Regions from separate parts of the Homo sapiens genome. Here region 1 is reported to be linked to region 2. The links are microRNA targets in miRTarBase. Many come from high-throughput screens and were not tested one by one. Region 2 holds a microRNA gene; the other region holds the end of a gene's coding sequence.
What was found. The annotated mature microRNA hsa-miR-6803-5p reads CUGGGGGUGGGGGGCUGGGCGU and lies in region 2 at 1,078-1,099, opposite strand. An mRNA with a match to its seed (bases 2 to 7 or 8) in the 3' UTR can be bound and repressed. Matches are read on the target gene's strand: a 7mer-m8 pairs with bases 2 to 8, a 7mer-A1 pairs with bases 2 to 7 and ends in A, and an 8mer does both.

Region 1: miRTarBase lists RUNX3 as a target of hsa-miR-6803-5p. Seed matches in the 3' UTR shown: 7mer-m8 at 401-407, 7mer-m8 at 720-726, 7mer-A1 at 1,177-1,183 and 7mer-m8 at 1,451-1,457.

What each region holds. Positions count from the first base shown.
Region 1 is chr1:24,899,327-24,902,326 of GRCh38, reverse strand. It overlaps RUNX3 (RUNX family transcription factor 3), which reads left to right. Exons shown (of 5, transcript NM_004350.3): 5 at 1-2,816. The coding sequence ends at 205. Among named protein-coding and RNA genes, the nearest start is that of MIR6731, 19 kb to the left of the region's middle. RefSeq lists enhancers at 80-149, 480-929, 1,697-1,746.
Region 2 is chr19:55,244,147-55,247,297 of GRCh38, forward strand. It overlaps MIR6803 (microRNA 6803), which reads right to left and starts at 1,104; the gene lies at 1,040-1,104. PPP6R1 (protein phosphatase 6 regulatory subunit 1) reads right to left here. Exons shown (of 24, transcript NM_014931.4): 2 at 2,731-2,963; 3 at 1,346-1,532; 4 at 1,119-1,256; 5 at 974-1,039. The coding sequence starts at 2,957.

The sequences.
Region 1 (3,000 bases), not on the chromosome of region 2:
CAGCAGCAGTGGGGGCGACCGCTCACCTACCCGCATGCTGGCCTCTTGCACCAGCAGCGCTGCCTCTGTCGCCGCCGGCAACCTCATGAACCCCAGCCTGGGCGGCCAGAGTGATGGCGTGGAGGCCGACGGCAGCCACAGCAACTCACCCACGGCCCTGAGCACGCCAGGCCGCATGGATGAGGCCGTGTGGCGGCCCTACTGACCGCCCTGGTGGACTCCTCCCGCTGGAGGCGGGGACCCTAACAACCTTCAAGACCAGTGATGGGCCGGCTCCGAGGCTCCGGGCGGGAATGGGACCTGCGCTCCAGGGTGGTCTCGGTCCCAGGGTGGTCCCAGCTGGTGGGAGCCTCTGGCTGCATCTGTGCAGCCACATCCTTGTACAGAGGCATAGGTTACCACCCCCACCCCGGCCCGGGATACTGCCCCCGGCCCAGATCCTGGCCGTCTCATCCCATACTTCTGTGGGGAATCAGCCTCCTGCCACCCCCCCGGAAGGACCTCACTGTCTCCAGCTATGCCCAGTGCTGCATGGGACCCATGTCTCCTGGGACAGAGGCCATCTCTCTTCCAGAGAGAGGCAGCATTGGCCCACAGGATAAGCCTCAGGCCCTGGGAAACCTCCCGACCCCTGCACCTTCGTTGGAGCCCCTGCATCCCCTGGGTCCAGCCCCCTCTGCATTTACACAGATTTGAGTCAGAACTGGAAAGTGTCCCCCACCCCCACCACCCTCGAGCGGGGTTCCCCTCATTGTACAGATGGGGCAGGACCCAGCACGCTGCTGGCAGAGATGGTTTGAGAACACATCCAAGCCAGTCCCCCCAGCCCAGCTTCCCCTCCGTTCCTAACTGTTGGCTTTCCCCCAGCCGCACGGGTCCCAGGCCCCAGAGAAGATGAGTCTATGGCATCAGGTTCTTAAACCCAGGAAAGCACCTACAGACCGGCTCCTCCATGCACTTTACCAGCTCAACGCATCCACTCTCTGTTCTCTTGGCAGGGCGGGGGAGGGGGGATAGGAGGTCCCCTTTCCCCTAGGTGGTCTCATAATTCCATTTGTGGAGAGAACAGGAGGGCCAGATAGATAGGTCCTAGCAGAAGGCATTGAGGTGAGGGATCATTTTGGGTCAGACATCAATGTCCCTGTCCCCCCTGGGTCCAGCCAAGCTGTGCCCCATCCCCCAAGCCTCCTGGGAGGATCCAGCCAAATCTTGCGACTCCTGGCACACACCTGTCTGTAACCTGTTTTGTGCTCTGAAAGCAAATAGTCCTGAGCAAAAAAAAAAAAAAAACAAAAAAACAAAAAAAAAACAAAACAGTTTTTAAAACTGATTTTAGAAAAAGAAGCTTAATCTAACGTTTTCAAACACAAGGTCTCTTACAGGTATAGTTCCGTGATTATGATAGCTCTGTGATTATAAGCAACATCCCCGCCCCCTCTCCCCCCCGCGGACCCCCAGCTGCCTCCTGAGGGTGTGGGGTTATTAGGGTCTCAATACTTTCTCAAGGGGCTACACTCCCCATCAGGCAGCATCCCACCAGCCTGCACCACAGGCTCCCCTGGGAGGACGAGGGAAACGCTGATGAGACGCTGGGCATCTCTCCTCTGTGGCTCTAGGACATCTGTCCAGGAGGCTGGGCGGAGGTGGGCAGGATGTGAGAGGTGGGGAGTACTGGCTGTGCGTGGCAGGACAGAAGCACTGTAAAGGGCTCTCCAGCCGCAGCTCAGCTGCACTGCGTTCCGAGGTGAAGTCTTGCCCCTGAATTTTGCAAAATGGGAAAGTGGGCGCTTGCCCAAGGGCCAGGCTGCATGGATTCTCACATCAGAGTTCTCTGGCCCTAGAAAGGCTTAGAAAAGGCGTAAGGGAACTCATAAAGGCTAGCAGCATGCGGTATTTTAACTTTCTGCCTCGGCCTCTGTGGATGCAGAAATCTGCCCTACAAAATGCTCTTCATTGGTTGTCTCTGTGAGAGCACTGTCCCCACCCAACCTGTCACAACGGCCAGAACCATACACCAGAGACACACTGGCAGGTTAGGCAGTCCTTCTGGTGATCCTATTCCATTCCCTCCTGCTGCGGTTTCTCTTGGCCTGTCCTCACTGGAAAAACAGTCTCCATCTCCTCAAAATAGTTGCTGACTCCCTGCACCCAAGGGGCCTCTCCATGCCTTCTTAGGAAGCAGCTATGAATCCATTGTCCTTGTAGTTTCTTCCCTCCTGTTCTCTGGTTATAGCTGGTCCCAGGTCAGCGTGGGAGGCACCTTTGGGTTCCCAGTGCCCAGCACTTTGTAGTCTCATCCCAGATTACTAACCCTTCCTGATCCTGGAGAGGCAGGGATAGTAAATAAATTGCTCTTCCTACCCCATCCCCCATCCCCTGACAAAAAGTGACGGCAGCCGTACTGAGTCTGTAAGGCCCAAAGTGGGTACAGACAGCCTGGGCTGGTAAAAGTAGGTCCTTATTTACAAGGCTGCGTTAAAGTTGTACTAGGCAAACACACTGATGTAGGAAGCACGAGGAAAGGAAGACGTTTTGATATAGTGTTACTGTGAGCCTGTCAGTAGTGGGTACCAATCTTTTGTGACATATTGTCATGCTGAGGTGTGACACCTGCTGCACTCATCTGATGTAAAACCATCCCAGAGCTGGCGAGAGGATGGAGCTGGGTGGAAACTGCTTTGCACTATCGTTTGCTTGGTGTTTGTTTTTAACGCACAACTTGCTTGTACAGTAAACTGTCTTCTGTACTATTTAACTGTAAAATGGAATTTTGACTGATTTGTTACAATAATATAACTCTGAGATGTGTGGAAGGAGTCCAGTGCCCGGTTTCTAGGGCTATGCATGGAGGTGGGGTGGGGTGGGGGAGAGGATGGAGACCTCCTGCTGTTGCCCAGGAGGAACAGGAACAGAGACACCCAGCACCTTCATCTCCTTGCTTCCAACTTCTTCAGGAATGGCCGCAGAGACCACCCTGGCCACAGGACAGCCGGTGAGGCC
Region 2 (3,151 bases):
GCCCTGGGCCATGCCTCAGGGTCCTCACAGGGACAGGCCCCAGCCTGGGTGAGCCCAGAGCCATCTCTGCTCTGTAAGCCTGTGCGCCTCTGAGGCAGAAGTTGGCATTGGGAAGGACATGTTGCTCCCAGTGGCCTCGGATATCTGAGGCTCTTGACAAACACCCACTCTACACTAGGCCCTGTGCTGGGCACCAGGACAGAGATGGAGACCCAAGCTGGAGAAACACATGGACATGGGGTCCCCCAGAGCTAAAGGGGAGGATGTGAGGGCGCTTGAAAGCAAGGCTGCTGGACGGACACTTAGAAGGACAGCAAGGGGTTCAATCAGGCAGGAGACAGGGAAAAAGCTGCCAGGCCCAGCAATAGCACAGGCCAGGGTGGGCAGGGACGGATGTGGGGCCAGCGCTTGGACAGGCGATGAGGAGGGCCCCTCCCTGCAAGGCATTATGTGCCAAGTTCCTGGGTCATGAAAAAAACCTTTCCAGCACTTTCGGAGGCCACAGTGGGAGAATCACTTGAGTCAAGTTTCTTTCCTTTTCTCAAAGGGCATGGATACACCTGGTTCTCAATGCTCTCTTTTCTCACCAATTTCTTTTCTTTCTTTTTTTTTTTTTGAGACAGGGTCTCACTGTGTCACCCAGGCTGGAGTGCAGTGGTGTGATCATGACTCACTATAGCCTTGACCTCCCGGCTCAAGCAATCCTCCTACCTGAGCTTCCCAAGTAGCTGGGACTACAGGTGTGCAACACCACACTCAGCTAAGTTTTTACGTAGAGACGGGGTGTTACTATGTTGCCCAAGCTGGTCTCAAACTCATGGGCTCAAGTAATCCTCCCACCTCGCCCTCCCAAAGTGCTGGAATTACAGGCGTGAGCCACTGCGTCCAGCCCCAATTCCTCTTTTAAAAGTGGGGAAGTGGGCATGGGGAAGGAACTCTAAGGGGAATCCGCAGGGGCATCGGCAGCACTCACATTCTCATCCTTCGACGGGTGGATCTGCTCAATCAGCCGCTGGACGATCTTCTCCTCGTTGAGCCACTGAGGGTGAGAAGGCGAGGGATGCATCGCTGTCCACCACGCCCAGCCCCCCACCCCCAGAGGAGCCGGCCCTGCTCACATTGACAACATCCTGCCTCAGCTGAGGCCGCTCCACACAGGTGAGCAGGCGCAGCAGGAGGTCCATGATGGCCGAGGTGCCAATGTGCTGCAGCAGCAGGTCCACGAAGTCATCCTTCTTCCGAAGAAAGGACACGAGCTGGGGGCACACGGGCTGCGTCATGCACAGGGCCTGGCCCAGCCACCACCCCTCAACCCACGGTGGCGCCAGGGTGGGGGCCAGGGCACCTGGTCTGTCTTGCGGTTGATGAGGATGCCCATGACCTTGCTGAAGAAGCTGGCCAGCAGTGGGTTGAGGCTGCCGGTGCTCTGCAGGAAGCCGTAGAGCCGGTTCAGAAGGGACTCATCAGCACCCAGGGCATCATTGATCTGGGGCACATCTGAGGTCAGAATCTCGCAGGCCACACTGGGGTACCTGGGAGGCAAGCACAGGCGGGTGGGGGCTCGGGTCGGAGGCCGGGGGCAGGGGGCGGCAAGGCTCCACCCTCTTCTCTGCACCGGGCACTGGGTTTCTGGGAACTGCAGAGACCCCTGTCCAGGAAGGGGAAAGGGCAGAGGACAGGGTGACGCAGAAACAAGGGCCCACACCAGGCCTCCTCCACCCTGCTAACACCCAACCATCCCATCCTAGGCTCCTTACCACCCCCAAGACAAGCTGGTCCTGAAGCTCCTGCGCTTCCCAATCCCCCAGCAGCTAACACTCATCCCTTTTGCCTCTCAGCGGCTTCACTTGCAACCCCGTATGCTGCCCCAGCTCCGGCTGACTCCTGGAACCTTGCTCAACTTCCAACCTCACCTCCTGCCTCCCTCCTCCAAACTTTCACACGGTGCCTGACGGCTCCAAGACAAGAGCTGCCCCACCAGCGTGCCACTCAAGGCCCTGAGGGGCCACAGTCTGCTCCAGGACTGTGGGGAGGTACCCCTTGGGAGGCTGAGGCAGGCATATCACTTGAGGTCAGAAGTTCAAGACCAGCCTGGGCAACATGGCGAAACCCTGTCTCTACCAAAAATACAAAAATTAGCTGGGCGTGCTGGCTTATAGTCCCAGCTACTTAGGAGGGTGAGGCAGGAGAATCACTTGAACTTGGGAGGAGGAGGTTGCAGTGAGCCGATCATGCCTCTGCACTCCAACCTGGTGATAAAGTGAGTCTCAAAAAAAAAAAAAAAAGTGTCTTTTCAGCATCGCTTGGATTAAAAAATAAGTAAAGTGTCTTCAATAGCAGACAAGTGTTTCACAAACATACAAAAAAAGTTTAATAAAAAGTAAATAAAATAAAAGGCGGCGAATAAAGAGAAAAACCAGCCGGGCATGTCGTCACATGCCTGTGGTCCCAGCTACTCGGGCAACTGAGGCGGGAGGATCACCTGGGCCCGTGAATTTGTGGCTGCCGTGACCCGTGACTGTGCCACTGCCCTCCAGAGCACAGGCTTGGTCTGCACCCGGTGAGCTGTGAGGCCTTGTGCAGGAGCCTGGCTGCTCCCAGCCTCGTCTTCCTCATCCCCAAACTGGAGTTTACTGACACTGACGCATTTCAGGGTAGCTGTGAGGCTTGCGTAGTGAAGGTATGTGTGATGCTGATAGGGACGGGCTGGCCAGGAGCTGGGGAACTCACTTGTAGCGCAGCCGCTCCTCACCGCTATCTGGCGGCTCCTGGGTGACCCAGGCCACCATTGCTTGCAGGTGGGGTGGCTGCAGCAGGAAGTCCAGCAGCTTGCGGTTGACGACCTTGCACTCCTGCAGCACGTCTTCCTCGTCCAGCAGCTCGGGCAGGCTCAGGTCCTCCCGCTCCAGCAGCGTGTCCAGGTGCGAGCTTGTGTGCAGGTCAAACTTCCAAAACATGGCGCCCTGCAGGCATAGACACAACCAGCGCCGCGTCAGACGCCCCAGGGAGTCCCCACTGGACGAGGCACTGACCACAGGGGCTGAGTGCCCACCTTGGGCACAGCCTCTCCCCAAGTCCCAGCCCTCTGCCTCATGCTGAGCCCGGCCCCGCCCCGGGACTGCCCGCAGGCTCACTGCCTCCATCACTCAGG